4 linked regions of the Homo sapiens genome follow. The protein of the gene in region 2 interacts with the protein of the main gene of each other region in a biochemical or structural test. Each region holds a gene or a part of one and is shown on either strand. Other genes may lie near its edges.

Region 1 (7,713 bases), on a different chromosome or scaffold from region 2:
CTTCATTCTGGCACTTAATCAATCAATCCTTGCAGAAGGTTGCTACCTAAGAATATCTTTCAACAAGATTATAGACCCAGTCTCAGGTATCCCACAGAGCTATGCAGTAATTGCCTCGCAAGAAATACTTGCTAAATAAATAAATAATTCAGATTTCTATCCATTCATCTTCTCTCTTCAACTGGAATGCAAGCTTCAGAAGGGTAAGCTCCATGCCTGGTGCTTTTCTTGTATTCCCAGACCATAAGAAGGGTAGTAAAGAGCCACTTAATAAGTGCTTCTTTTTCTTTTTCTTTGAGATGGTGTCTCACACTGTCACCCAGGCTGGAGTGCAGTGGCGCGACCTCGGCTCACTGCAACCTCCGCCTCCCTTTTTTTTTTTTTTAAATTATACTTTAAGTTCTGGGATACATGAGCTTTTGTTTGTTTTATTTATTTATTTATTTTTTTTTTTGAGACAGAGTCTCACTCTGTTGCCCAGGCTGGAATGCAGTGGTGCAATCTCGGCTCACTGCAACCTCCTGCCTCCCAGGTTCAAGTGATTCTCCTGCCTCAGCCTCCCGAGTAGCTGGGATTACAGGCGCCTGCCACCGCGCCCGGCTAATTTTTGTATTTTTAGCAGAGACGGGGTTTTGCCATCTTGGCCAGGCTGGTCTTGAACTCCTGACCTCATGATCCACCCACCTCGGCCTCCCAAAGTGCTGAGAACAGGCATGAGAGGCATGAGCCACCATGACTGGCCCTGTTTTTCGTTTTTGTCTTGTTTTTTGAGATGGAGTCTCGCTCTGTCGCCCAGACTGGAATGCAGTGGCTCGAACTCAACTCACTGCAACCTCAGCCTCACCCTTCCAAGCAGCTGGGACTACAGGCGCCCGCCACCACACCCGGCTAATTTTTTGTATTTTTAGTAGAGACGGGGTTTCACCATGTTAGCCAGGATGGTCTCCATCTCCTGACCTCATGATCCGCCCACCTCAGCCTCCCAAAGTGCTGGGATTACAGGCATGAGCCACCGTGCCCAGCCCTGTTTGTATTTTTAACAGAGACAGGATTCTGCCATATCGGTTTCACCTCCTGCCCTCAGGTGATCCACCTGCCTTGGCCTTCCAAAGTGCTGGGATTACAGGCATGAGCCACCGCACCCAGCCAAGTGCTTCTTTTTCATCACTTTGATTGATACTCTTTAGTTCCACTGCAGATGAAAGCAGGGAAAAGTCAGCCAGTTTTCTCCATATCACAGAGTGATCCAAAAGGTTAAACCACAGGCCCCAAATAACTTAGCTCAGTTTACCCACATACCACTGTCAGCATGTCAGGACTCAGGCTGCCTCCTCTGATTGTAAATTAACTCTGCCACTTTTGTGTGAACGGTTCTCTCTGCTGTGTTCCTAGCAGTTTGCCATGTGTCTCTGGGAAAAAGACACGTTCTCCCTTAGCTAACTTGAATAGATTAGCATATGCTGCACATAGGGAAGAAAAGGGCATGCTAATTTAACATGTTCACTCTCCACTTGTACCAGACTTCACACTTTCCCATAATCTCACTTTATTCCCACAACAGAGAGGGGCAGTATTGTCTCCATTTTTAAAAGAGAAAGTTGGCTAGGTGCGGTGGCTCAAGCCTGTAATCCCAGCACCTTGGGAGGTCAAGGCGGGCGGATCACGAGGTCAGGAGATCGAGATCATCCTGGCTAACACAGTGAAATCCCATCTCTACTAAAAATACAAAAAAGTTAGCCGGGCATGGTGGCGGGCGCCTGTAGTCCCAGCTACTGAGGAGGCTGAGGCAGGAGAATGGCGTGAACCCAGGAGGCAGAGCTTGCACTCAGCTGAGATCACGCCACTGCACTCCAGCCTGGGTGACAGAGCAAGACTCCGTCTCAAAAAAAAAAAAAAAAAGAGAAAGCTGAAGCCCTAAAACAAAAGTGACCTGATCAAGGTGACATGAGAATTAACAGCTACTACACTGGTGGAGACCGGCTGGAAATCAGGTTTCCTATTCTGAATAGGATGCTCTTTTGCTTAAAATGAAAAATAGTGGGCTTTACAGATCCCTTATCTCCAAAGGAGAGCTGGTTTGCTTGTTCACTGGTTACTTCTGCAAGTTGGCATTTAATTATCACTGTTTTCTTGTTCAACTGAATGGTTATTGGATCACAAAATGAGCCCTGCCCACCCATTCTCAAATTCAAACCTTTGCCCACGCTTCTCTGAGGGCTATTCAAGCCAGCAACCCACCTCTCTAACATTGGGCATGTCCAGCAGTTCTCCAAACACGTAGACACCAGGGGCCTCCAGCACCTGATGGATGAGTGTGGCCAGCGCTGCCCCCTTGGCCGACTTGGCTAGGAGCAGAAATTGCTCCTGGTTCTGCCCTGTCACCTTCACTTCCGCACTCATCACTGCACTGAGTGTGGGGGACTTGGGCTCAGGATGTCCAGAGCTGCAAGGAAAGAGGATGTGAAGCTAGAGGTCCCCGATGGCTGGTCGGATGGGAAGCACAAGGCTGAGGGACTGGATTGTAAAGGCACTAAGTCGGTTCTGCGGTGAGGAATCAGACATGGAGCGGTCTAAAATTCTGATCTAGGAATCCTAAAGTCAGCCACTTCGCAAGGCTGCCACACCCACCCCCTCCCCTGGGCCTAACCCCAAGCCCCATCACGTGCACCCCATTGAACCCCAAGACACAGGATGCAAAGGAGAAATGGGTGTCGCATGGTGTCCACCCTGACGACGCTCCCTCAGCTCTCCATTGCTGCCCCGCACGCGCCCACAACCACGTGACCTCACCCCCATTGAAGCTTACACGTGGCTCCGCCCCCTCCCTTAAAGACACCGCCCAGCGACCGTGGGCTCCCGCCGACTGCTTCGTCGTACCCTGGGTCAGGCTCTGCGGGCCGCTACCTGGAAGCTTCGACCTCCAGCGCACCGGGCGGGGCCGCCGCTCCGTCACCTCCGGCAGCTGTTCCAAGCCTTTCCTGCCACCTCCCTGAAGAGTCGCTCTGGCCACTAAACTCTATGGCGGGCTTCCGGCCGTACTTCCGCTCTAAGGACGCAAATTTCGGCAGGACATGCCCCACCCCCGCGTTCCGACCGCTGAAGCTCCAGTGAGGGACGCAGGCATTCTACTCTTCGATTGGTCGCTGGGGGAAGAATGACGGGCGCCTTTTTAAATGCTTTATTTCAATAAAACTTTATTAGTGGAAGAGCGCCAGCTATTAACTACAGACGTCTCTGGTGGGTCCCTGGTCCCGGCCCATTCTGTGTCTGTTCTAAGCCGCTGGAGAGCTGGAGATCAGGACTGCACTGGGTACCTGAGGCAAGAGAAAAGCTGTAACGGAAGGAGTGAAGAAGAGGGAAAAAAACGGGATGAGGAAACAAGGGGCAGAGAGGAAGCAAACAAAAATCAATAATAGAAGTTTAGCAGCAGAGATCACCTAGGTGGTTCAACCACTCACTTTTTTGAAGAGCAGGAGAAAAGAAGCGAGAAAAATAAAAGAGAGAATAAAGCTAACATGTATTGAGTGCTTACTATTGGTCAGACATCTTTTAAAATTTTATTCCGTTGAATCCTCACAAATATTCCCCTGTGACTTCAGGACACCCTCTACCATGATTACTACATATGTATTAATACTTGTAGAATGATGCTTTCAGTACATGGACTCTTAATTTCTTGGGGAGGAAAAAACCCTATGTGGTTCTCATTTTACAGAAAAGGAAATTGAGGCTCATAAAAATCCAAGGATTTATCTGGAGCTTTTCAAACTCAAAACCATCTTTCTACTTCAATATGATACTTTAATAAAAACAAAAACAACTAACATTTCTATAGTGTTTTATATTTCACAACAGGCTTGCAGAAGGTCAAGTGAGGGTAAAGTTAATGACATCTTGGCCTTTGTGTTAAGCCATGAGCATTACTTAATTCATCTGATACAACGATCTAGTAATTGTTATCTCCACTTTCCAGATGGAAAAACTGAACTCAGGAAAATTAAGAAACTTGTAAGTAATGGAAAGACAAGAAAGTGAAAAAGAGAAAGATAAAGAGAAATAGGACTCGTAGTCTGTTAGGGCTAAAGGAACTGCAGATGCAGTTTATGGTCCGCATATTTTGGTTTGTGATAGAAAATAAGCAGAAACACAGAAAGGAAAGAGAAAGGAGGAAGAGGAGAAGAAGAAATGAATGGAAAAGGTGAAACAAAAGTGAGTAGAAGGAATCAAAGGCATAATAAAATATTCAGAGTTTGAAGGAAGCAAGGAATTAATGAGTCCAAACATTATTATTATTATTTTGCATCCACCCCTCCCCGCCCCAAGCTTATCTTTTTTTTTTTTTTTTAATTTGAGACGGAGTCTCGCTCTGTCGCCCAGGCTGGAGTGCAGTGGCGCGATCTCGGCTCACTGCAAGCTTCGCCTCCCGGGTTCACGCCATTCTCTGGCCTCAGCCTCCCGAATAGCTGGGACTACAGGCGCCCGCCACTACGCCCGGCTAATTTTTGTATTTTTAGTAGAGACGGGGTTTCACCGTGTTAGCCAGGATGGTCTCGATCTCCTGACCTCGTGATCCGCCCGCCTCAGACTCCCAAAGTGCTGGGATTACAGGCGTAAACCACTGCGCCCGGCCAAGCTTATCATTTTTAGAGAGAAGGGAAAAACATGTAAGATGAAGGGATGAGAAAATAACCCGTATTTGTTCTATTTTGCGCCAAGTGCTTTATTTGTTCATTTTTTACTTTTTTTTTTTTTTTTTTTTTTTTTTTTTTAGAGGCATGGTTTCACTCTGTTGCCCAGGGTGGCGTGCAGTGATGCGATCACAGCTCACTGCAGCCTCGATTGTTCAAATTTTTATCTTATTTATTTTTTTTTGAGACAGTCTTGCTCTATGGCCCAGGCTGGAGTGCAGCGGCACAATCTCGGCTCATTGCAACCTCCACCTCCCAGGTTCAAGCGGTTCTCCTGCCTCAGCCTCCCAAGTAGCTGGGATTACAGGGACGCGCCACCATGCCCGGCTAATTTTTGTATTTTTAGTAGAGCTGTGGTTTCACCATGCTAGCCAGGATGGTCTCGATCTCCTGATCTCGTGATCCACCGGCCTCTGTCTCCCAAAGTGCTGGGATTACAGGCGCGAGCCGCCGCACCCGGCCGATTGTTCAAATTTTTATTCGATCTTTGCAACCCTATGAGGTGCATATTAGTGTCTCAATTCACCTGTGAGGACACTTAGGAATACAGAAGTTAAATAGTTTGTTGAAGGTTACCGGTCTGTGATGAAACTGAGATCTAAATGCAAGTTTGTCTGATTCCAACACTGTATTGAGAAAGATAAGCGAGCTGGGCGTGGTGGCTCAGGACTGTAATCCCAGCACTTTGGGAGGCTAAGGTAGGCGGATCGCTTGAGGCCAGGAGTTCGAGACCAGACTGGCCGACATGGTGAAACCTCATCTCTACTAAAAAAATAATAATTAGCAGAGCGTGGTGGCAGACCCCTGTAATCCGAGCTACTCAGGAGGCTAAGGCAGGAGAATTGCTTGAACCCTGAGGAAGGAGAAGGGGACAGAGGTTGCAGTGAGCCAAGATCCTGTCTCTGCACTTCCGCCTGGGCAACGGAGCAAGACTCCGTCTCAAAAAAAAAAAAAAAAAAAGAAAGAAAGAAAGAAATGAGCCAGACAGAGTGGCTCATGCTTGTAATCCCAGCACTTTGGGAGGTCAAGGCAGGTGGCTCACTTGAGGTCTTGAGATCAGGAGTTTGAGACCAGCCTGGCCAACATGATAAAATCTCATCTCTACCAAAAATACAAAAATTAGCCGGGTGTGGTGGCGCATGCCTGTAATCCCAGCTCCTCGGAAGGCTGAAACAGGAGTATCTCTTGAATCCAGGAGGCAGAGGTTGCAGTGAGCCAAGATTGTGCCATTGCACTCCAGCCTGGGTGACAGAGCAAGATTCTGTCTCAAAAATAAATAAATAAATAACATTTAAAAAAAGAAAGAGAAGCAGGAAAAAAGCAGAAAGGAAAGAGCGACAGAGAAGAGAGCACAAAGAAAGAGATAACCTGAGATTTACTCCTGATTTGGTCTTAAACCAGCTGTGACCTTAAAGCAAATCAAGCCATTTTGTGGTATCTCCTCTTCCATATCCGCCAAGAGAGATTAGATGTTAAGGCCAATTTGGGTTCTGATGTCTTATGGTTCTATAGGAGAAAAAGGAGTGAGAGGAGAATATGAGAGAACAATGAGTAAGGAGATAAAAGAGAGTTTGGAGAAAGACAGGAGAGGAAATGGACTAAAGAAGTAGGATTAGAGAGAGAAGAGGAGGAGCAGGAGGAAATGTGAGAAAGATAAGAAAAAGGAGTAGAAATGGGAAAAGAAGAGGAGAAAGTGGGAAGAAAAATAAAGGTGTCCCAAGAAGAGGATGGGAACTAAGTAAATATAAGCAAAGTCCTGGAGGTAACATTCATTCATTCGTTACTAAGTGGCAGTTATATACAAGGGTATGTGCCAGGTGCTGTTTTTCATGCTAATTATAGAAAAGATGCACTGAAATAAAGCTAGAAAAGCTGACTGACATCCAAAGAGTCAAACATGTAAGAAAATATTTATCATTGAGTCAAAAGATATTATTGTTCTAGCTCCTGGAGAGGTAGACAAAATCCCTGCCTTCTTGCTACTTGTATTCTTGTGGTAGAATTCAGGCCTTAAATAATTACAAGGTGATAAATATGAAGAAAAACAAAAACAAGGTAAGGGGGATGGGGAATGCAGGAGACATTTGTTATTTAAGGTCCTTAGGAGGGCCTCCCTGACAAGGTGATAAGGAGCCAGTTGGATGGATTTGTATGGGAATTTCACAAGCAGAGCAAACTACCAGTGCAAAGGCCCCGTGATGGGGACATACTAGATGTGTCTGAAGAGCACCAAGGAGGCCTTGTGGCTGGACCTGATTGAGAAAGGGGAGAGGAGGCAAGGTAGAGCGAGAGCAGGGTGTCCAGATCATGTCTTATGGGCGACTGTAGGGACTTTGGCTCTTGCTTAGAGTGAGATGGACGGCCAGTGGAGGATTTGAGCAGAGGAGTGACACCATCTGACCCACACGTTTAACATATTAAAATGGCTACACGGGCAGAACCAATTAGACCAATTAGAAGGCCACAGCAATGATGCAGGCAAGAGACGGTGATAACTTAGACCATGATATCAGTGGCGGATGCAGAGAGAAATAGCTGGATTATGTATGTATGTATGTATGTACGTATATTTATTTATTTTTGAGATGGAGTCTCGTTCTGTCTCCCAAGCTGGAGCGCAGTGGTGCCATCTCAGCTCACTGCAACCTCTGCTTCACGGGTTCAAGTGATTCTCCTGCCTCAGCCTCCCAAATAGCTGAGACTACAGGTGTGTGCCACCACATCTGGCTAATTTTCGTATTTTTAGTAGAGACGGGGTTTCACTATGTTGCCCAGGCTGTTCTCAAACTCTTGACCTCAGGTGATCCACCTGCCTCAGCCTCCCAAAGTGCTGGATTACAGGCATGAGCCACAGTACCTGACCTGGTTTCTGTACTTAACTTAAAGTGAACAGAATTTGCAAATTGATTAGATGTGAGGTATGAGAAGAAAAGAAAGTCAAGAATGACATCATAAGACAGGCACAGTGGCTCACGCAAATAATCCCAGCACTTTGGGAGGCCGAGGAGGGTGGCTCTTTTGAACT
Region 2 (7,297 bases):
ATGTATGTGTGTGAATGTTTATATATGTGTGTGCATGTCTGTGTGTGTGTATAATTTTACTAGACCAGTGAAGTAAATGGAAAATTCCTTTAAGGTTTTTATAGATAAGACTTCTTTTTAAAAAAAGTGGATAAGTTATTTGGATCTATCTATCTGTATATCTCCTTTAATGTTAGCCCTTGACTATGATTTGGTATAATTTTACTAACTCTAAGATATTAACTCTATCTTACCCCATGGCCCAGCCCGTTGGTGAAAGCTGGCCCTCGCTTATGATCTGTCTTGAAAAACTGATGCGTGAAGTGCTGGGCAAAGAATGCAAACATCATGTTTGAGCCCTGGGGATCAGGGATGAACTTTCTTCTTAGAAGCAATTTTTCCACAATCTCATTTGAATCAGGAAGCTGCTTTTTACCTGAAAAATGAGAAAGCTAAGGTAAGAATCCATCTATGTATTCAAGAAAGGAGATGGTGACTGTCAATCTACCAAGAATTCTTCATTTATATGAGAATTACAATTGTGAATAGGATCATAATATAAACAACAGTTCTAAGATATGGTGGAACAACTTCTTACTGAATGATTTTATCTATTTTAATTAGAATTATTTCATTTCTAAAGAAATAATTTGAAAATATTAAGACATTATACCAAGACGCTCATTTGCTTTTACATAATAGTTTATATAGACTCATACTTTAAAAAATACCCATAGATAACCATGCTAAAAGTAAAAACTGCTTTTGTTAATAAATAAATGGTAGTCTAAGGTCAATTTTTTTTTTTGGCAGCAATGCAGCCCGTCTTATAGTTAATACATCTCTAATGGATTCTTCTTACTCACCTTTGACACCCAAGGGAGTCGGGCAATCATCAGGCACAGGAGGAAGGGCTCTAGTATAATAGGAGAGGTTAGAGAAGGCTTCCCAGCTTTTGTAGCCATAGTCAGCATTGTAAGTTGGTGGACTGTCAATCAAATGTGATCTGGCTGAAATTTTCAAAGAAAAAAATGTTTTATTTATTCTCATTTGTTAAGTAAATCAACCATTATTTTTATTGTAAAATGTGGAAAGTGGCACCTGAGGTTGAATGTAACTCCAAAATAAAAAAAATCTATTTTTAAACAACTACACTTTATAGTCTAATGGCCACTTGAAATACATCTTTAATAAAATACATATACTCTGCACATTATAATCTGGCAATATTGATTTTTCAGGTAGCCATCTGCTCACTATCCAAGAGGCCTATGAAAGGAATGGCTGAGTATGGCACCCACTTTAGAATCATGGAAAGTTATTTTCTTGCTGATCCAAATCCAAATTTATTTTAATGGGTGCTACATGTTCAGAACAATTCTGTGGCCCATGGGCATTCAATAAACAGCTGGACCATGCTACCTCCACAAACTGACCAAACAGTAAAGGTTAGAAGAGGTATACAGAGTTGTGAGCAGACTGTATAAACTGGATGGGACTAAATGTCAATATTTTTGGCGATTAAGATGGAAGGCAAACTTAAAAGCTATCTTAAAGTCTTTTTGATAAGCTTGGAAATATGTTTTTAGATTAGGCTTACAGTATTATAAAGCATATTTTTCTTTGAGAAGGCTAAAAACCTTAGAAAGACACTTGTACTTACATGTCAACACATAACTCATAATTGCATTTCGAAGGAAGGGAATGTTATTCACAACGTTCCAAAATCCCTTGAAGTGGGTAAGTATGTAGTGCACTGTGTTTGGAGTGGGTTTCAGAAATAATTTTATTCTTGTCAAAAATTCCGCTGCAAGAAGACGAAGAAAGGGAGGGAGAAATTAATGGGACTCATTATAAGACACAAATCTATACAATGATAACTGTATCCAGCCCCACTCCTAATGAGGCAACCAAAGGACAAACTTACGTGTTGAGCAGTTTTCTCCATAGAATCCTGTCCGGGTACAATCGCACTTATACTGGTCAAATCCCACACTCATACATACACCTCGGTTTTGACATGGGTGGGAACAGCAAGGATTTGCTGCAATTAAAGGACAGCAAATAAATCATTCTCTAGTGTCTTAATCTTAATTTAAACATTTAATTGTTTGACTATGAATCAACTTTACAATAATAAATTCAAGAAATATATAGGTAGTCATGGAAATACAATTTTTTAACCTGCCTTAGAATGGATAAAACGTAGAAATACCAATTTTCTATTCTAAATAAGGATAACAGCATATTCAACTTGGTACATCATGTTACTAAGCTTTTCTTAGTTAACTCTTTAGATGTTAAAATTAGCATTTTTAAGAAGTTCAAATAAGTAGCACTTCACTTTCCAAATTAAAATGGATCTAGTACACTAATCAACATTTAGGGAAAAATTCAAAGTAAAACAGCTTACTTTTAAGACATTTTGCTTATCTTAAAACATAATCCGGGCTTTCCTGGGAGCAGGAAAGAACTGACTAGAATATTTAAAACAACTTCTTCCACTCAATAAAAAGGTTCCAAATATAAACAATTCACATATATTGATCAGATCCTGTCTTATCATAATGACAACCTGCAAATTAGTATCATCTATCCCTATTTAGGAGGTGAGAGTGTCTCAGATCGGTTAAGTAACTGGCTCATAATGATCAGTGCTTGTGGGAAAGCTGGAATATCCACGGAGTTCTTTCGAACTCTAGCGGTCCAAGCTCTTTCCCAAGTCACGTAGCTTCTCTATTCGGAGAGAAGTCGGAGTACTGGGATAGACCCAGGAGGTCAGAGCGGAAACTCTGCCCGGGTGCGTGGAACCGGAGTCCCCGGTGCGCGGCGCCAGGTACTCACCTGTATGGCTGAGCGCCAGGACCGCGCACAGCAGCAGGGCGCGGGCGAGCATCGCAGCGGCGGGCAGGGCGCGGCGCGGGGGTAGGCTTTGCTGTCTGAGGGCGTCTGGCTGTGGAGCTGAAGGAGGCGCTGCTGAGGAGTTCCTGGACGTGCTCCTGACGCTCACTGCAAGTCGTATGACAATTGGTCGCTAACCGAGAGAACCTTCCTTTTTATAAGACTGAAAACCAAGCCCATGTGACGAAATGACTGTTTCTTTCCGCCTTTTCGTACCCCCCACAAATTTTTCCCTCCTCTCCCCTTAAAAAAATTGCGTAAGCCCGGTGGGGGCAGGGTTTTTTACCCACGGAAATGAGAAAATCGGAAACCCAGGAAGCTGCCCCAATTTGGGAGCAGAGGGGGTAGTCCCCACTCTCCTGTCTGATCCCTCCCTCTCCTCCCCGAGTTCCACCGCCCCAGGCGCACAGGTTTCCGCCAGATGTCTTTTCTTCTTCGCAGTCTTTGCCCGAGCGCTTCCGAGAGCCAGTTCTGGACTGATCGCCTTGGATGGGATACCGGGGGAGGGCAGAAGGACACTTGGCTTCCTCTCCAGGAATCTGAGCGGCCCTGAGGTCCGGGGGCGCAGGGAATCCCCTCTCCCGCCGCCGCCGCCGTGTCTGGTCTGTACGTCTTTAGAGGGTCGAGGAAGTCACGTCGGGACAGACTGGGGCGAGTAAGGTTAAGAAAGGCTGACATGTTTTATGTTTTAGTGACGACGCTTAATAGGCTGTATATCTGCTCTATATGCAGCACATACATACATAGCTTTTTAAAAAACTCTTATTTTGTGGAATGAAATAGCTACCTTCAGTGTACATAGCTGTAATTTATCTTTGTAGCTAAGTTGCTTTCAACAGAAGAAATACTGTTCTCCGTACCTTCACCCCCTCCTTGTTTCTTGGAAAGAGAGGCGGGAAAGGTAAATTCTCCTCATAATACTGGTCCTAAGCAGTTACCCTGTAAATAGTTAATGTGAGCTCCACGGGTCACCAATATAAAGTTTCCTGCCTTCTGATGGACAAAGGAAGCGGCGATGGCCAGAATTTGCAGGGACGCTAAATGTCCAAAACGTATGCCTTAAGGCATTTCTCTCCCTGATGCGTGGATTATTTTGGTTACTAGCCCTTCATAGGAGATACTGGTAAAATAAATTCGAGTTTTAAAGTTCACTCTTTTGTCTTTTCTGTCCACTTTTCCAAGATTATGAGTTGTGACCATGGATCAAAGTACAACATAGCATTTACTTTTCAGTTGCCTGGGCTTATTGGGGCTAATTTTCTATTCTCGTTTTGGAACATAGTTGGATGAGGAATTAATTAGATGGAAGGGAGATTTTGACAGTTGGAATTTCATCTTTGCTTTTGTTTAACATCTATCATGGGTAGTGCTCAGGGAGGAGCATGTGAGGGTGAGATACTAAAAAATATATATATGTATATGTGTGTGTGTATATATACATATATATATACACACACACCAGAAAAGAAGTGGAAAATAGAAAATTCAGTTATGTCCTAAGTCCTTAGCATTACAGGAAAATGACAGCATAAAACCTGAAATAAAACTACACCAGGTACCTCAATTTGTAGAAGTCTTATAAGAAAAAAATAAATAAGAGACTCACTTGGAGGTTTTTTTTTTAACTGTTTTGCTTAGTGTACACATCTGATTCTTCATGAGACACGGATGACTAAAATTCCATCTCATCTAGGAAGCCTTTCTCCTCCTCTAGTCATATTTCATCATTCCATTTATGGCACTCCTATTTATTGCATGGAATCTTACATGAAATTTCAACTAAGAGCGTGGATCATTTTCTTTTTGATAATTTAATAATTTCAATCTTCTGTTTCATTTTAAAGGAGTAGGTTGCATCTACTGAAATTTGAAGTTTATAGTTAGAGCTACTAATGTTAGTTTGGGTTAGAAGCCATGTTAGAATCCATACTGTGAGAGAGTACTAAAATTTTACATTACAATCCTGAATTCATTTTGAAGTGATCATCATCATTGTCTTCCTTATCAGACATTAATTGTTCTGTTGTCTGAAAAGAGATTTGGATACAAAAGTGAGGGAAAAACAGGGCATAAGGAATAATTATATTTAGATTATTTTAAACTCAAAGGAATTGAACTCCATCTATCCCATAGTGGAAATTCTGTCACTTATATAGCAGGATAGAGTGAAGAGTTCCATGTACTTGGAAAGTCAAAAAAAAAAGTTCAAGGAGAATCTGGGACTTTAAGGATGGGCAGAGTTTTAGAAAGAAGTGCAAATCTGAGCATAAGGAAAAAAGTTACATAATTTATTAAATAACTGACAATTCTGAGACAATAAAATAAAACGGATAGGTACATTTGGGATGCTGGTCATGGGAGTGTATTAAATGTGCCAAACTAAATTAAGACCACTAAACCTGTTTTATATGGAAAAGTACTGTGACTATTGTGTACCATAAAAAAAAGGTTTGATCATGTAAAACTTATAGCTCTCATGTTTGCATATATTCAATGTTTCTGTGTCTATTTTAGGCAAATATATGGATCTGTTGTACAAAATTTCTATTAGCGTCTGAAATTTGTTGGGAAATAATCTACATGAAAAGAAAATAAGGAAGAATCTTAAAAATCTTCCAGAGCTTTCTGTTGAGTTTTACTGCCCCCTTCTGCTGCTTGAAATTTTGTCAACTTTTTTCCTAAGATGCTAGGAAGATTGCCAGACAGATTTTGTGTTTAATTTTATAATGTTCTAAACATTCACATGTTGCACTGTTCATTTCAGATTTGTTTCATGAATATGTTGAAAAGAAATGAAATATTTATTAATTGAAGTGATAAGCCATTCATGTGAGTTAAAAGAAAATGAACAATAAAGACTCTTAATGTCCAAAATTCCAAATAAACTAACTTTTTTTTCCCTTCCTTGTACTTTGAGCAGGGTTCTACTACTCATACATACAGATCCATTATCTCAGGCAAGGGTCCTCTTTCTATTTCCCTCGTTTCTTCTTTGGTGGGTTTAGTGGTTCACTTAGAGAGTGGAGATCACCCCTTGTCTTCTTTCTTTCATGGCATGTTGGCTGAAAAAAGAGCTTTGTGTCAGGGTTATTCTTAGTATACTTTGGCAAGGTTATGCCATGAAGTTTATCTCTTCCTTGAGTAGCAGAAATGTTACTTACAGAAGATCTTTACGTTAGTCCTTTAGTAAAGCCTGATTATTTACCCATTCTTAGCTACACAAGAAGTTTTGAGGCTATAAACGAAAGCACATAATTTGTTAAATTAAGAAAAGTCCTTTCACATAAGTCAATGAAGAAACACTTAAAAAATCTATTTCTAAGTTTTATAAAACACTGATCTCCTTTCTTTTTCTCAAATATCTCAATTCTTTGATGGATTTTTCTTTTACTTCATTTTTTTTTGTGATTGTTCATTATAATACTCAGATGAGCCAAAGTAGTTGAATGAGTTGAACACAGTCTTTGTATTGGACCTAGAAATCTCACAAGGGGACAAGGAAGGGAAAGAGAGTGTGAGGTGGGGGCACTGGAGCAGGCAGGATGTGAACATACCCACGCACAGAATATGAGGCTTAGGACTTTCAGTTTCTGATCTGGCATGTCAGGGAGGAGCTTGGAAATTGTCACTTCATCCTAAAAACAAGTAAAAATCTAAGCAAACTGAAAAATCAACACTCTCAGAACTGTCAGAGAAGTGAGGCGACAGGTCATAACCCTACTTAAAAAATTTGAAAGACAGACCATACAAGAAGAACAACTTACTGGAGCAGAAATGCACAGGCAGAAACCTCCATGAAAACCAGTACCTGGGTAGGAAAACCTGAACTGTAATTGATGAATTTCTGGAGGTTCAGTGCAGATAAGTCTGCAAAGGAAAAATTCTGGAAGACTCCCACACTTTTGTGAGTTTTGCTTCCTGGAGCTCTACGAGGTTCTCGCAGTGAATATCAGAGAAAACTCCCCCTCAGCTCCATCAGAGTATAGTGTTCTTAATAAGGCCTATACTCAAGAGAAATTATTTTATAATATTAGAGCCTAAACTGTCGGGATTTTTGTCGCAGCCTAACTGAATTAGAAGAAGGAAAATATCCAAATTTAACTGCCTCTAGCTTTCCATACAGGGGAAGAAAAATACCCAACTCCAGCCCTCTCTTTAGCTTCTACATTGGAGAAGGGAAATACCCAATTCTAGCCCCCCCCCAGTGATCTTGTCCCACTTAAGGACAGGAAAAGAGTGGAATGAAAAGCACTTGTTGAAAGTCACCGTTCATAGGCACAGGCTCACTAAAAGGCCGAGACCTGCTATAGGACTATAGAATGCTTCACTTCCCCTGAACTCTTATCGTCACATTACAATGTATTGAGTTTCTTTCACTCAGTACATCATGCCTGGCTTTCAACAAAAAATTAGAAGT
Region 3 (7,263 bases), on a different chromosome or scaffold from region 2:
TGTGCAATATAGTGAGACACTGTCTCTACAAATATTAGCCGGTCGTGGTGACACACGCCCGTAGTCCCAGCTACTCAGGAGAGGCTGGAGTCCAGGAATCTGAGGCTGCAGTGATCACTGACCAGACCATTGCACTCCATCCTGGGTAACAGAGCAAGACTCTGTCTCTACAAAAAATAATTTTTAATAAAATAAAATTTAAAAAACAAAATGTCCTAAGCTTACAGATCTGATGGAAATCCTATGCAGATTGTCCAACTGTTAATCATCAGGTTTGTTAAACTATTTCCCAAACCAACTCTTCCTTAACTGGGCCACTAGAGAGTGCTAGAAATGCAGGACACCGCACATGAAGTGATACAGGTAAATAAGTCCCCCCAGTCAGAGGAAAAAGCATGGAGGGCTTAAGGGCTCCTTGCTGGCACACTGCCAACTGGCACTGCAGCAGCCCCCACCTAAATTTTGAAAGAAATATTTTTCACTACCCGACTACAGTTCAACTTCTAATTGGTGAATAACATACATGTGGCTCAACAGTTTTGAAACTAAGCAACTGACATCTGAAATTAAAAGATTAATCAGAGCCATAAGTAGCGCAAAAAAAAAAAGTAATTCTTAACTTTAGGAAATTAGGCAAAGTTAGTTAATGATGGTTTAAACTTGACTCCTTCTATTTGGTTAAAAAATACCAGAGGGGGGAAGAAAGGGAGAGGGAGGGAGGGAACGGAAAAAGAAAAGGAGGGAGAGGAAGAGTGGGGCGGTCCCCACTTCATCCAAAGTAGTAACAAATCTTGGGCGCGTCACGTCCCAATCCGGACACTACTGACCCAGAGTAGCAACAGCACATTCCCTGTAGAAGACTGGCTTCAACCAGGCCACCCTTTTTTTTTTTTTTCCGGAGGGGGTCTTGCTCTGTCACCCAGTCTGGAGTACAGTGGCGCGATCACTGCTCACTGCAACCTCCGCCTCCCGGGTTGAAGTGATTCTCCTGCCTCAACCTCTGGAGTAGCTGGGATTACAGGCGCCCGCCATCACACCCGGCTACTTTTCGTATTTTTAGTAGAGATGAGGTTTCACCATGTTGGCCAGGCTGGTCTCGAACTCCTGACCTCGTGATCTGCCCCCCTCGGCCTCCCCACGTGCTGGGATTACAGGCGTCAGCCACCGCGCCAAGCCAGGCCATCTTTTCTTAAAGACACACAATTCTACTAGCAAGACTCTAACTCCGATCCTGAAACGTTTTATGTCTGATTTTAGTTCATCCAGACATAACGCTACCTGATACCATTACAGATAAAAAAAATTTTGAGGCCGGGCACGGTGGCTCATGCCTGTAATCCCAACACTTTGGGAGGCAGAGGCGGGTGGATCACCTGAGATCAGGAGTTCCAGACCAGCCTGGCCAACATGGTGAAACCCCGTCTCTACTAAAAATACAAAAATTAGCCGGGCGTGGTAGCAGGAGCCTGTAATCCCAGCTACTCAGGAGGCTGAGGCAGGAGAATCGGCTGAACCCGGGAGGCGGAGATTGTAGTGAGCCGAAATCGCGCCACTGCACTCCAGCCTGGGGTACAAAGCGAGACTTCGTCTCAAAAAAATAATTTTTTTTTTGAATTACTGCTTAACATACCCTACAATCTCAGCGAGCCTGTTGGTATTCCCATAAATAAAAAAATGCCACTCAAGGTGGAAACTGCCCTCACAACTCCCAATCTCGGATTGTAATCTACAAAAGCGCGTGAAACTGTAAAAATAAACTTTATTCACATAGAAGAATCACGTTACGTTTTGATTTCCAAACCCTTACCAAGCCTAACTGCGGGACGCAAGACTGGGCTCCCCGAGGGGACTCACTCCTGGTTAAGGCCTCCCACAGCCCACGGCGCGCTTCCAAGTCTACTCCTCAGCCGCAACGCAAACCCGGGCTGTGGCTCCGCACCCACAGGCTCGCCCCGGCCCCAGCCCCTGCCGCCCTCCACCTCCAGCTCCTCGCGGGCCCCGAGGCAGCCGCGAAGCTCCGGCCCCGCGCCCCCCAGCCCGCCTCCTGCCCCAGCTCCCGTCCAAGGTCGCTCCTGGCGGCGGGTGACCGCTGCAGACCAACGCCCAGAACTCGACAGCCCCCCATCCTTTACTCATTTTTTTGAAATATTTCTTTCTCTGCACCCGCATCCAGCCCCGAACCCTCCAGAACCAGGAGAGTTCCCCGCAAGGACCTCGCGCAGGAACGCCCGGGACCGCCCACCGAAGTCCCAGGCTCCCCAGGCAGCAGGGCAGGAGAACACCACCCCCGGCCCGGAAGCACTCGCCCCTCCCGGGCCAAGAAGGATAAGGGAGGGGGAGGGCGGAGAGAAAGGAGGGGGAGGGGACAGAGAGGAGGGGGAGGGGACAGAGAGGAGGGGGAGGGAAAGGAAGAATGGGGGAAGGGGGGAGAGGGGAAGGATAGGAAGATGAGGAGATAAGGGAAGGGAGAGAGTTGAGGGGGGAAGGAAAGGAGGGGGAAGGGGTAAAGAGAAGAGAGGGCAGAAGGAGAGAGGAAGAGGAAGGACAGGGAAAGGCAACGGGGGAAGGGAAGAGGGCAGGAAAAGGGCCCCTCCGCCGGCCGGCCTCAGGAGCGGCAGAAGGCCCCGAGCCCGCCGCGCGGTGGGCTGCCGGGCGCACCTTGCGCTTGCGGGCCTCAGCCGTGCCGCTCCACACGAAGCACTGGTAGATGGCCCGCAGGTTCTGCTTCCAGTTGTCCACCTTGAAGCTGCCCAGGTGCGAGCAGCCCGGCGGCGCTACCGCCAGCTCGGCGTCCATGGCCTCGCCCTCGGGCTCTGGCCGGGACACCATGGGGGGCAAGGCCCGGCCGCGCGCGGGGGGCGGCGGCGAGGGAGGCGAGGACGACGCCAGCGCGGCGTGGGGGCTGCTCGGCGGCTGGCCAGGCTGGCCAAGGCCCGGGCGCCGAGAACAAAGCGCGGAGGCCGGACAAAGATGGGGCTGCGCGATCGCCGAGGGGAGGCTGCAAGGCAGGCACCGCCCCCGAGCTGCGGCTGCTGCGGACCGCCTGCGCTGCGCTCTCGCGGTTCGCGGAGGGTGTCGCGGGGCGGGGCGCCGCGGCCGCGGACGGAGATTACGTCACCCCCCCCCCCCCTCCCGGCCGGCACCGCACTGCGCAGTCTCCAGCCCGCGCCAGGCCCTTCCCCCACACTCGCGCGCCCGTTAGGCTCTGGGTAGACCCGCGCCCGAGGAAGCGTGGTAGGGGGGGGAAGCTAACGAGGGCCCGCCCCTCCCCTTCCTTTATTGGTAGTAGGCCACCCCCCCCCCCCCCCCGGCACCTTCGGCTATTGTCATAGGCTCTCAGTATAGTCCGTCTGGTACAGAGCCGCCTCCCGGGACCCTGGCGGCTAGACGTTCCCTGTCTCTTCCAGAGGACTGGGGAGGCGGGGGCGTGCTGCGGTTGGGCGGCGCGAGACGTCAGTCCTAGCACTGAACCGGTTTGCGCCGGCCTGAGCTCTGCCGCAAAGAGGCGGGGCGATGAGCTGGAGCGCCGCAGGTCGGGCCTCCATCCAGGGCCTGCGCTTTCCCACCCAAAAGCACCCCCTAATCGGGAGCTGTTTGCAGGGCCCCCGGTTGCCGTAACCTGGCTCGGGCCCTGCAGTGCCGTGGCCCGGGGCTGGAACTGCCTGCCAACTGCCTGGTAGGCGCTGCCCCCGGCCGCAAGCTGGGGCGCCTCCTGTCGGGAGCCCGCTGATAGTGAGGGCCAACCCGGCGCCATCCAGTTTAAAGAGGCATCTGCGCGCCACACGCCTGACACTTCACATTTGCTAGTGGCTACATTTTTCTAATGAAAAAAGAAAGTTACAGTAATATATCTCAACCCAATAAAGTCAAATTATTTCAGCATGTAGGCAGTATTGCAAAATCGTTAGTGGAATGTTTTACAGTTTTTGCAGCAAGTCTTGGAAATCTGGTATTTACACTTAAAGCACATCCAATTCCTACTAGCTGCTACCGCAGTGGGCGGCACAGGTCTAATCGGTATACAAATAACTGACCCAAGGCAAACTGAGAAGACATTTAAAGACGAATGCAAACGAAGTTCTGGGGGAACCAGGGCGCCAAGGGTCTGGGGGAACTTGGATAAGGTGTCAGGTGTGGAGCTGCTCCCCTGTACTCATCCCGCTGCTAACTGCTTTGCTCATTCATTCATCCACAGATTGCAGGAAACAGCAATTGCCGTCCAGAACCATCACAAGTTAAAAAATAAAGATTGTGATCTCACAACACTTAAAGCTACAGGGTTTAATGGACTGACGACTGGGATAAAGCTTTTGTGGCCAAGACAAATTGCCGAGCACAGGTTTTTGCCTCATGGCCTTCGTGCTTGCAGTACCCTCTCCCTAAAATGCTTTCCCTACCCCCTCACCCTCTGCATCCTTATATTCCATGTCTGATGCTCGCTCACCTCCTTCCAGCTTTATCACACACCTCCTTTTCCGTGAAAAGGAAAATTGCCACCCTAATGAAAATTGCAAGCCCCCCAAAATTCTCCATTCCCTTACCCTGCTTTGTTTTTCTCCAAAGAATTTATCACTATCTGGCGTAATGAATATTTACTTATTTTTTTTATTGTCTCTTCCCTTAATAGCATGAAAAATTACGAGAGGGTAATCTTTTTTTTTTATTTTTTATTTTTGAGACAGAGTCTCGCTCTGTTGCCCAAGGCTGGAGTACAGTGGTGCAATTTCGGCTCACTGAAACCTCCGCCTCCCAGATTCAAGCGATTCTCCTGCCTCAGCCTCCCCAGTAGCTGATATTACAGGCGCCTGCCACCACGCCGCTAATTTTTGTATTTTTAGTAGAGAGGGGCTTTCACCATGTTGATCTGGAACTTTTACTAGAAATGGGGTTTCGTCAGGCTGGTTTTGAACTTCTGACAGCAAGTGGTCCACCAGCCTCGGCCTCCCACAGTGCTGGGCTTATAGGCGTGAGCCACTGCGCCTGGCCTCCAAGAGGGTAATGATATTGTGTGTTTTATGTACTACTACAGCCGCAAGTTCCCAGAACTGTATTGGCTACATGCAGGTACTCGGAATTACCCGGTGAAGCCCTATAGTAGTCCCAGCTACTCCAGAGGCTACGGCAAGAGGATCGCAGAGCCCAGGAGGTCAAGGCTGCAGTGAGCTGTGATTGTGCCACTACACTCTAGCCTGGGCAACAAAGCAAGACCCCATCTCTAAACAAAACAAAACCCTGCCGAATTAATTAACCCGAAACACATTTACAGAAAAATCTAACGAGACCATTTCTAGAATAAAACACTTGTTAAGGAAAACCATGTTTATGTTAGAGGAAAGAATGTCAGCTTACAAAAAACTAAAATCCTAACTAGTAAGTCAGGAATTACAAAAATATGTGATCCATCTCTATAAATATTGATGTAAGGAGTTTTCTCATATTGTTGGGCTTATACAAATATGATTTGGCTTCACAAATGTGCACTTAGCATTCAGGCCCTAATATTTATTATCTTTTTTTTTATCAATACGATCATCTAAGCACAGAAGAATATCTGTGCTGTCCACTTGAATCAATTATAATGATTTAAATGTTCCATAATCAGAACAACCTTAGTGATTTTAAAAAATTTAAACTACAGAATATACTCTTGAGAAGCAGTCCCCAAAAGATGTATGGATGAAGTGCTTTTTTTCTAATGGGAAACAAATGGAAACGTTAATGACGATTAATAGGAGAATCATTGAATAAATGATGGACTAGCCATTCTAGGGAATAGTACACAGCTATTAAAAAGAATGAAGTCCAGCTTGGGCAATGTGATGAAACCCTATCTCTACAAAGAAATTAAAAAAAAAAAAAAAAAGCCAGTTGTGGTGGTGCACGCCTATAGTCCCAGCTACCCAGCAGGCTGAGGCGGGAGGATTGTTTGAGCATAGGAGGTCGAGGCTGCAATGAGCCCTGATCATGCCAGTGATTCCAGCCTGGGCAACAGAGAAAAAAAAAACTAGATCTGTAAGTACTAGTACAAAAAGTCATAAAACATAAATGAATACAACAAATTGCAGAAAATTACAGAAAATATGCTGACGTTTGTAGGAAAATAATGGAAGGCCTGGAAGAAAGAAACACACCCATCAATAACAGTAACTTCTGGAAAGGAAAAGGTAGATGTGACTTAATCTGTAATGTTTGAATGTTTTCTTACAATGAAAATTAATATATTCCTTTGTATTTAAAAATCACTAAAACTTAAAAAGAAATGACAAAGTGTCATGGTACGAGGGAACACACTGTTCTACAACATGTAGAAAACAGTGGCCCACATGTTCAGTATATGCATTTATTCATGTATCCAAGAATCAAGTCAGATTGCTAAATTACAGTCAGGCTCTGCCACCTACTATCTGTGTAACCTTGGGCGGATTGCCTAAATTTCTCAGCCTGTTCACTTATCTGTTAAAATTGGGAGAATATCAGCTCTGTGCTTACGTTGAAGTGTATGGCAAGGAATAAATGAGATAATCCATACAAAACTCTTAGCAAGTGCCTGTTGTTAATAAGGGCTCAAGAAACATTAGCAGTTATTGATCTGATAGTTGCTGGCAATTGAGATGATTACAACAATTTCTTGCTTCAAGAATCCCAGGAGGATGGGAGAGGAGAATTTTTTTTTTTTTAATTTAAAAAAAAAAAGGCCGGGCATGGTGGCTCACGCCTGTAATCCCAGCACTTTGGGAGGCCGAGGCGGGCGGATCACAAGGTCAGGAGATCAAGACTATCCTGGCTAACATGGCGAAACCCCGTCTCTACTAAAAATACAAAAAATTAGCTGGATGTGATGGCACCATTGTAGTCCCAGCTACTCAGAAAATCGCTTGAACCCGGGAGGTGGAGGTTGCAGTGAGCCAAGATTGCACCACTGCACTCCAACCTGGGCGACAGAGCAAGACTCTGTCTCAAAAAAGAAAGCCAGGTGGCCTATGCCTGTAATCCCAGCACCTTGGGAGGCCAAGGTGGGTGGATCACTGAAGGTCAGGAGTTCAAGACCAGCATGGCCAACATGGTGAAACCCCATTTCTACTAAAAATACAAAAATTAGCCAGGCGTGGTGGTGCATGCCTGTCATTGTAGCTACTTGGGAGGCTGAGGCAGGAGGATCACTTAAATCTGGGAGGTGGAGGTTGCAGTGAGCCAAGATCGCGCCACTGCACTCCAGCCTTGGTGATACAGTGAGACGGTGTCTTAAAAAAAAAAAAGAATCCC
Region 4 (7,779 bases), on a different chromosome or scaffold from region 2:
GTCCTCAACCAAAATCCACCCCGTCACTGGGCTCCCAAATATCACCCCCGCCAGGCGCCGTGGCTCACGCCTGTAATCCCAGCACTTTGGGAGGCCGAGGCAGGCGGATCACCTGAGGTCGGGAGTTCGAGACCAGCCTGACCAACATGGAGAAACACCGTCTCTACTAAAAACACAAAATTAGCCGGGCTTGGTGGCGCATGCCTGTAATCACAGCTACTCGGGAGGCTGAGGCAGGAGAATCGCTTGAACCCGGGAGACGGAGGTTGCGGTGAGCCGATATCCTGCCATTGTACTCCAGCTTTGGCAACAAGAGCTAAACTCCGTCTCAAAAAAGAAAAAAAAATCACCCTGTTTCGCGGACCGCCCAAACCTTGAGACCCAGGTCCCAAACTGCATCCTAAGCCTCAAACAAGCACAGCCCTGCCGCTGGATTGTTGCGGGCTCCGCACGTAAAGAATCTCGCGCCAGGCTCTCGTAATGAGACCGCGCCCCGCCCCGGACCCCTAGACCCCGTCTCCGCAATCCCGGGTTTGGGGTGGGGGTCCCGGCTTTCCCAGGCTCCACCACCGAGCTCTGCCAAGCCCAATCATCACATTCTCTTGCCCCTTTCCCCTGCTAGTTGTACCATGCCCCGCCCCTGCGCTCTGTAGCCCTGCCCCGAACCCCTCCCTCACAGGTCCTGCCGCGGGGGGCCCCCACAAGCCTCTCCCCTGGGCGCCCACAGGCCCTGTTCTAAAGCTCTCCTGGGCCAAGGCCCGCCCCCATCCACTGCCAAGTCCCCACCCTAAGGCTCCACCCCTTCATCCACTAGGCCCCGCCCACAGACTCCCACAGGCCCCTCCCCTCCAGGCGAACGCCCCCAGGGGTCTTTGGTCACCTCTGTCACCTAAAAGGCGCTCCTCCCGCAGACAAGAGCGCCAAAGCCACGGGGAAGCGTCAGGATTGGCCTGAACCATGAGGAGCTCCTGGCGCTTCTGTCGCTGCTTCTTTTCAAACAGCCGCCGCTGGGGAGATGGGAGAGGTGGGTGTCCGGGACAGGAACCAGATGGGAAGACAGAAGTGAGGTGGGGCCTGGGGCAAGGGCTCGCATCGGCGCGAGAGTTCGTGAACCCCTTCCTCCACTGGGGCCCACACGTCCAGGCCCTCAGTTCTTCAGCAGCTCCTCCCTTATTCCACCGTTGGACTCAGATCCAAGAGTCCTGACACCCTGTCCTCTCATCCCCCAGGACCCAGGAGTCCTGCCTTCTAGAAGCCTTGTTCCTTAGAAATTCATCACAAGGGTTTGTTTGCTTCTTTAGAACCCCCAATTCCTATTTTCTTTTCTTTTTCCTTTCTTACTTTTTTTTTTTCTTTTTGAGACAGAGTCTGGCTCTATCGCCCAGGCTGGAGTGCAGTACCACGATCTCCGCTCACTGCAGCCTCCGCCTCCCGGATTCAAACGATTCTCCTGCCTCAGCCTCCCGAGTAGCTGGGATTACAGGCGCCTGCCACCACACCTGGCTAATTTTTTGTGTGTTAGTAGAGACGGGGTTTCGCCGTGTTGGCCAGGCTTGTCTTGAACTCCTGACCTCAAGTGATCCGCCCACCTCAGCATCCCAAAGTGCTGTGATTACAGCCGTGAGCTGCCCTGCCCGGCCCCAAATTCCTATTTTCTCATTTCTCAGTGGGAAAACTCAAGGATGAGAGACAGCCAACACGGGCTGGGAGTCCTAGAGCAAGACCTGGTGGAGAGGCCCCTGGGGAGGCACAGAAGGCGGAAGAGTTGGAGTGGTGAGATTCCTGGGCACAATACCTGCTGTTCCAGCTTCTGCAGCCTCATAGCAGCGAGCTCATGCCCCAGGATGCTGAGAGAGACACAGGCCCATGGTGACAGTGCACAGGGAACCTCGGTTGCCCAAGAGAGTCCCTCCTTCCCCCATCCTGCCCCTATCTCAGCTTGGGTTCTGGGCACCTGTGAGGTCACAGGAGGTGCAGAACCTGAGCCTGCTCCACCAGTTATAGGGCCCTTTCTCCTGGCACTGGCCCACAGAAGCCGGGACCCAGAGATCCCAGGTCCCTCCTGTCTCAGGATTCAGGAGTCTGGGGCCCCCAACCCCTTCTCTTTCAGACCCAGAAGTCTGCACCCTAGCCCCATCCCTTCAGGACACAGGAGTCCAGGTCCCCAGCCCCTTCCTGCAAGGCCGATGGTGCTGAACCTGCAAACATGGTTATGAAGCCAGAGCCGAGTGCACGGGGTCCCCAGCCCTTTCCACCTCCACCCCTACCCATCTGTTTCCCTACTCACTCTCTCATCAATGTGTCATTATCCTGAGACATTCTGCAGAAGCAAGAATGAGGAGTCAGGATCAGAACCAACATCCCAATGGATCCTGCCCACCAGCACCTAATCTTTAGCCTTATTTATTTATTTATTTATTTATTTATTTATGTATTTAGAGACAGCTGAGCCTCGCTCTGTCGCCCAGGCTGCAGTGCAGTGGCGCCATCTCGGCCACTGCAACCTCCACCTCCTGGGTTCAAGCGATTCTCCTGCCTCAGCCTCCCGAGTAGCTGGGACTACAGGCGTCCGCTATTCTGCCTAATTTTTTTGTATTTTAGTAGATACCGGTTTTCACTATGTTGGCCAGGCTGGTGCCGGACTCCTGACCTCAGGTGATCTGCCCGCCTTGGCCTTCCAAAGTGCTAGGATTACAGGCATGAGCCACAGTGCCCGGCCTGATCCTTACCTTTAAATTTGCTTCCGGACCCAGGCAGCCCGAATCCCAGCACCCACTCCTGTCGGGATCTAGTAGCCTGTTTCCAGCTTCCCACGGGGGTCCGCAAGTCCGCTTCTCTCTCCCCCAAATATCTAATTCTCCAGCACCCAGGCATCAGAACTCAGGACTGTGCACTTCAAACACCCAGCCCCCAGCGGCCTAGAACTCCACTGCCCACCTGCCTGGGATCCGGGAGACTTGTTCTCCTCACCAGGTGCCTGGAGAGGCTGCTCACATTGATGCCTCGGTACCTTGCCTCTCTGGCCAATCTCTAAACATACCTGATCCTCTCTTTGGAAGCTGGGGACCTAATCTCGGGATATCTGCGAAATAGGGAGGAGAAGAAAGACGGCTCAGAGGGAGGGAGGATTCCCTCTGGGACCTGAACTGGTCCACTCCCTTCTGACCCTCCACTCTCCACTTCCAACAAAGTAACGAACTCGGTCACTGATGCAGCCAGGCAACCCTGCTCCGGGGGTTCTGAACACGAATGCCGTGTGGGGGTTCCTTAAAGAGACCAGAGACCGGCCCGGCGCGGTGGCTCACGCCTGTAATCCCAGCACTTTGGGAGGCCGAGGCGGGCGGATCACGGGGTCAGGAGATCTAGACCATCCTGGCTAACATGGTGAATCCCCGTCTCTACTAAAAAAAAATATATATATATACACAAAAAAATTAGCCGGGCGTTGTGGCGGGCGGGCGCCTGTAGTCCCAGCTACTCGGGAGGCTGAGGCAGGAGAATGGCGTGAACCCGGGAGGCGGAGCTCGCAGTGAGCTGAGATCGCGCCACTGCACTCCAGCCTGTGTGACAGAGGTAGACACCGTCTCAAAAAAAAAAAAAAAAAGAGAGAGAGAGAGCGGGAGACCAGAGACCTCGCGGCCTCACTGTACACATCTCGCTTACAAGAAACTTAAAAGAGGCGGGGCGCAGTGGCTCACGCCTGTAATCCCAGCACTTTGGGAGGCGGAGACGGGGAGGCAAGATTGCTTGAGTCCAGGAGATCCAGATCCAGACCAGCAACACAGAGATTTTTTTTTTTTTTTGAGACGTAGTCTCACTCTGTCGCCCAGGCTGGAGTGCAGTGGCGCGATCTCGGCTCACTGCAACCTCCGCCTCCCGGGTTTAAGAGATTGTCCTGCCTCAGCTTCCTGAGTAGCTGGGATTACAGGCATGCGCAACCACGCCTGGCTAATTTGTATTTTTAGTGGAGGCGAGGTTTCTCCATGTTGGCCAGGCTGGTCTCAAACCCTTGACCTCAGGTGATCTGCCTGCCTCAGCCTCCCAAAGTGCTGGGATTACAGGAGTGAACCCCCAAGCCCGGCTTGACATCCGTCTCTTTAAAAAACAACAACAACAAAGTGTGAGAAGTGTGAAAGACAGAACGTTAAAAAAAAAAAAAGGCTAAAAAAGAATTAAAGATTTAAATATTTGTATTAAAAATTTAAAAAATATACATTAGCCAGGCATGGTAGTGTGGCCTGTGGTCCCATCTACTTGGGAGGCTGACGCGGGAGGATTGCTTGGGCCTGGGAGGTAGAGGCTGCAGTGAGAAGTGATTGCGCCACTGCACTCCAACCTGGGTGACAGAGCAAACCCTGTCTCGAATAATAAGAAGAAGAAGAAAGAAACTCATAAGAAAGGCTATGCAATTGCTACCGCGCTATAACTTCCAGGCACTTCGTGGGGCGAAAATAAATGGGAAAACTACAGCTCCCATGAGGCGAAGGGGCCACGATGCCCGCGGAAGTTATTTTTCCCCCGGCCGGCAGGGAGTTGTAGTTATCTTTGAAAGCCTTCTCTCTCTTTTGGCATAGGCGGGAAATGTGGCGTCAAGAGGCTGGGATTCCGAGAAAGAAGCGAGGCTTTCACGAAAATGCGAGCGGCTTCGGCAAGGGGCGGGGCCGCTGGACGTGGATGAAAGCTACAGAGCCAGCGTGGACCAATCAGACCTCTTTGGGGCGGGGCCTCTGTGGATAAGTGGGCGTGGTCTAGGGGGGAAGTCACCAAGAACGCACCGGAGGTCCTTGCCCGCCCTGGAAAACGCCCTCTGCGGTGAAGGAGAGGTGAGAGGCCAGGGTTCCCATACTCTTGGGTCCTAGGGAGGATGGGGGCCAGAGGGCTGGAAAACTGGGTCCCGGAGGAGGATGCACTGGGTGCCAGTACTTTAGGTCCTGGGAAAAGAGGAGGCTGGGACCCTGGACTCTTGGGTCTGGGGGAGGAGGCGGCCGAGATCCCGGATTCCTGAGTGTGAGAGAGGAGCGTGTTGGGAGCCAGGACCCCTGGGTCTGAGGGCCCAGACTCCTGTGTCGGAGGAAGGGAAGGCCGGAGGCCTGGAATCCTGGGGCCTGGGTAACAAAATGCTTGTGTCTTGATTCTTGGAAGTGGGGGCGGCGCTGGGGGCCCGAACTCCTGGTTCCAGGGGAGGAAGAGGCTTGGGACAGACATTATGCATTATCCAGCCCTCCATCCCCCACAGACCACACTGCCATGCCTCCCTCTGGGCCCCGAGGAACCCTCCTTCTGTTGCCGCTGCTGCTGCTGCTCCTGCTTCGCGCCGTGCTGGCTGTCCCCCTGGAGCGAGGGGCGCCCAACAAGGAGGAGACCCCTGCGACTGAGAGTCCCGTGAGTGGCCCTGCCCTGCTATCCAGCCAGGTGTTTGCAGTGGTACTACAGCTCCTGCAGACCCCGGTGCCCGTAGGGCGGATGCTCCAGTGACTTCCTGGCCCTACAGTTGTAGCTTGTTTTTTGCCCACCATTCCTCCCAGCAGCAGGGGTTTGACTTGGTGAAAAACTGGAGGTCCCTGACTCTGAGGTGTGGAAAATCTGCATCACGCCCCAACTAAACGTCTGTTTTTTTAAGATTCTCTCCACCCAAGAAGGAATTTGAAAACAAACAAACAAAACTACATTTCCCAGTAGCACCATGTTGCTAGTTCCCAGTAGCAGTTGATGTTGGCTAGCTGGGGTATTCTGACTTCATGGTGCTCTTGGGAGTTGTAGTTTAAATTACAGAAGGGCGGGTGAACTGCTTGTTTATTAATTCCTACATGTGTTTATCAAACCCAATAAAAGCTTTGGTCTTAAGGGATTTGGAACTTTGGAGATCCTGAAGGTCAGTGAGTGTCTTGTGGTCCGAATCTTCCTATAGCTCCCCATAAGGATAGGCTGGTCAGGCCAGGCGCAGTGGCTCATGCCTGTAATCCTAGCACTTTGGGAGGCCGAGACAGGCGGATCACTTGAGGTCAGGAGTTCAAGACCAGCCTGGCCAACATGGCAAAACCCCATCTCTACCAAAAATGCAGAAATTAGCTGGGCGTGGTGGCTCACGCCTATAATCCCAGCTACTCTGGGAGGCTGAGGCACGAATTCTCGTGCTGGAACCAAGAGAGGTGGAGGTTGCAGTGAGCCAAGGTCACGCCATTGCACTCCAGCCTGGGCAACAGAGCTGAGACTCTGTTTTCTGAGACTGTCTCAAAAAACAAAGAATGGGCTAGTCATTACCCCCTGGAACGGATCATTGCATGTTCCTGGTCCCCACGCTGCAAGTTAGGCCTCTATTCTGTGAAATCCTTGCAGACCCAGGAAGGCTTTGTTGAGTCCCATTTCTTTTCTTCCATTCCACATGTTTCCTGAGCACCTTCTATGAGCCGGGCATAGTGTTGCCTATGTGTTGCATAGTTGTTAGGGCCCAGCCATGTGCATGCCCCATGCCCATGGACTATCCCTGCTCACTGGGAGATGGAAGACAAAGGGCAGGGCTCTATGAGAGTGAACACCAGGGGTGACAGTCAGGGAGGAAGGGAGGCGTGAGTTGAGTTCTTTCTTTCTTTCTCGCTCTGTCACCAGGCTGGAGTGCAGTGGTGCAATCTTGGCTCACTGCAACCTCTGCCTCCCAGGTTCAGGTGATTCTCCTGCCTCAGCCTCCCGAGTAGCTGGGACTACAGGCGCACACCACCACGCCCATCTAATTTTTGTATTTTTAGTAGAGACGGAGTTTCACCATGTTGGCCAGGATGGTCTCGATCTCTTGACCTCTTGATCTGCCTGCCTCGGCCTCCCAAAGTGGTGGGATTACAGGCATGAGCCACCTCATTTTTTCTTTTCCTTTTTCTTTTTTTTTTTTTTTTTTATTTTTGCTGTGTCACCCAAGCTGGAGTGCAGTGGTGCAATCACTGCAATCTCCATCTCCCAGACTCAAGCGATCCTCCTGCCTCAGCCTCTGGAGTAGCTGGGACTGCAGGCATGTGCCACCATGCCTAGCTAATTTTTTTTGTATTTTTGATAGAGACAGGGTGTCATTATACTGCCCAGGCTAGTCTCGAACTCCTGAGTTCAAGTGATTTGCCCGCCTCGGCCTCCCAAAGTGCTGGGATAATAGGTGTGAGCCACTGAGTTCTGAACTGGAGAGATATGTTAAGTCAAGAGCAAGGAAGAGAGGAAGTGAGGGGAAGAGCATTCCAGGCAGAGGGAACAGCATGAGCAAAGGCCACTTGGTAGGAGAAAGCAGAGCAAGTTGAGGACGTCAAGGAGGCTGCTGTGGCTGGAGCAGGGAGAGTGAGAGGGAGGGGAGAGGGGGATTATGTGGATCATGTGGGATCTTGTGAGACTAGGTAAAGAGGTAAAGAATGTATATATATATATATATGTTTAATAGACAGGGTCTTGTGCTGGTGCCCAGGCTGAAGCGCAGTGGCAGGATCATACCTCACTGCAGCCTTGAACTCCTGGGCTCAAGTGATCCTCCTACCTCAGCCTCCCAAAGCACTGGGATTACAGGCATGAGCTACCATGCCTGGCCTTCTCTCTTTTGTAATTTTATTTATTTATTTTTTCCAACTTATCTTATTTGCTTTTCACCACAACTCTGGGAGGCAGAGGATATATTGCCTATTTTATAAATAGTAAGAGCATAGAAGGCCCAGGGAGAGTAAAGTCCCACCCAGCTACGCATGACGGGGGTGGGACTAGGAGGCCTGGGACTTTTGTCTGTGTTGTTCACAGTGCCTGGCATATGATAGG

What was found.
Region 1: the proteins of PTGS2 (region 2) and COPS7A form a complex in vitro, tested with the Homo sapiens proteins (one study listed by BioGRID).
Region 3: the proteins of PTGS2 (region 2) and USP22 form a complex in vitro, tested with the Homo sapiens proteins (one study listed by BioGRID).
Region 4: the proteins of PTGS2 (region 2) and NUCB1 form a complex in vitro, tested with the Homo sapiens proteins (one study listed by BioGRID).

What each region holds. Positions count from the first base shown.
Region 1 is NC_000012.12:6,719,344-6,727,056, reverse strand, and holds the start of COPS7A (COP9 signalosome complex subunit 7a), read right to left. Parts: upstream 3,012-7,713; 5' UTR 2,878-3,011; exon of another isoform or gene 2,807-2,877; intron 2,771-2,806; exon of another isoform or gene 2,444-2,770; 5' UTR 2,401-2,443; coding exon 2,239-2,400; intron 1-2,238.
Region 2 is NC_000001.11:186,677,416-186,684,712, forward strand, and holds the start of PTGS2 (prostaglandin G/H synthase 2 precursor), read right to left. Parts: upstream 3,009-7,297; 5' UTR 2,876-3,008; coding exon 2,824-2,875; intron 2,024-2,823; coding exon 1,907-2,023; intron 1,787-1,906; coding exon 1,643-1,786; intron 990-1,642; coding exon 846-989; intron 416-845; coding exon 234-415; intron 1-233. UniProt on the Homo sapiens protein: Dual cyclooxygenase and peroxidase in the biosynthesis pathway of prostanoids, a class of C20 oxylipins mainly derived from arachidonate ((5Z,8Z,11Z,14Z)-eicosatetraenoate, AA, C20:4(n-6)), with a particular role in the inflammatory response.
Region 3 is NC_000017.11:21,040,007-21,047,269, forward strand, and holds the start of USP22 (ubiquitin carboxyl-terminal hydrolase 22), read right to left. Parts: upstream 3,006-7,263; 5' UTR 2,830-3,005; coding exon 2,659-2,829; intron 1-2,658. UniProt on the Homo sapiens protein: Deubiquitinase that plays a role in several cellular processes including transcriptional regulation, cell cycle progression or innate immunity.
Region 4 is NC_000019.10:48,895,550-48,903,328, forward strand, and holds the start of NUCB1 (nucleobindin-1 precursor), read left to right. Parts: upstream 1-4,762; 5' UTR 4,763-4,823; exon of another isoform or gene 4,824-5,109; intron 5,110-5,236; 5' UTR 5,237-5,247; coding exon 5,248-5,382; intron 5,383-7,779. Other genes in the region: TULP2 (tubby-related protein 2), read right to left, coding at 881-1,007, 1,796-1,847, 2,288-2,319. UniProt on the Homo sapiens protein: Major calcium-binding protein of the Golgi which may have a role in calcium homeostasis. Acts as a non-receptor guanine nucleotide exchange factor which binds to and activates alpha subunits of guanine nucleotide-binding proteins (G proteins).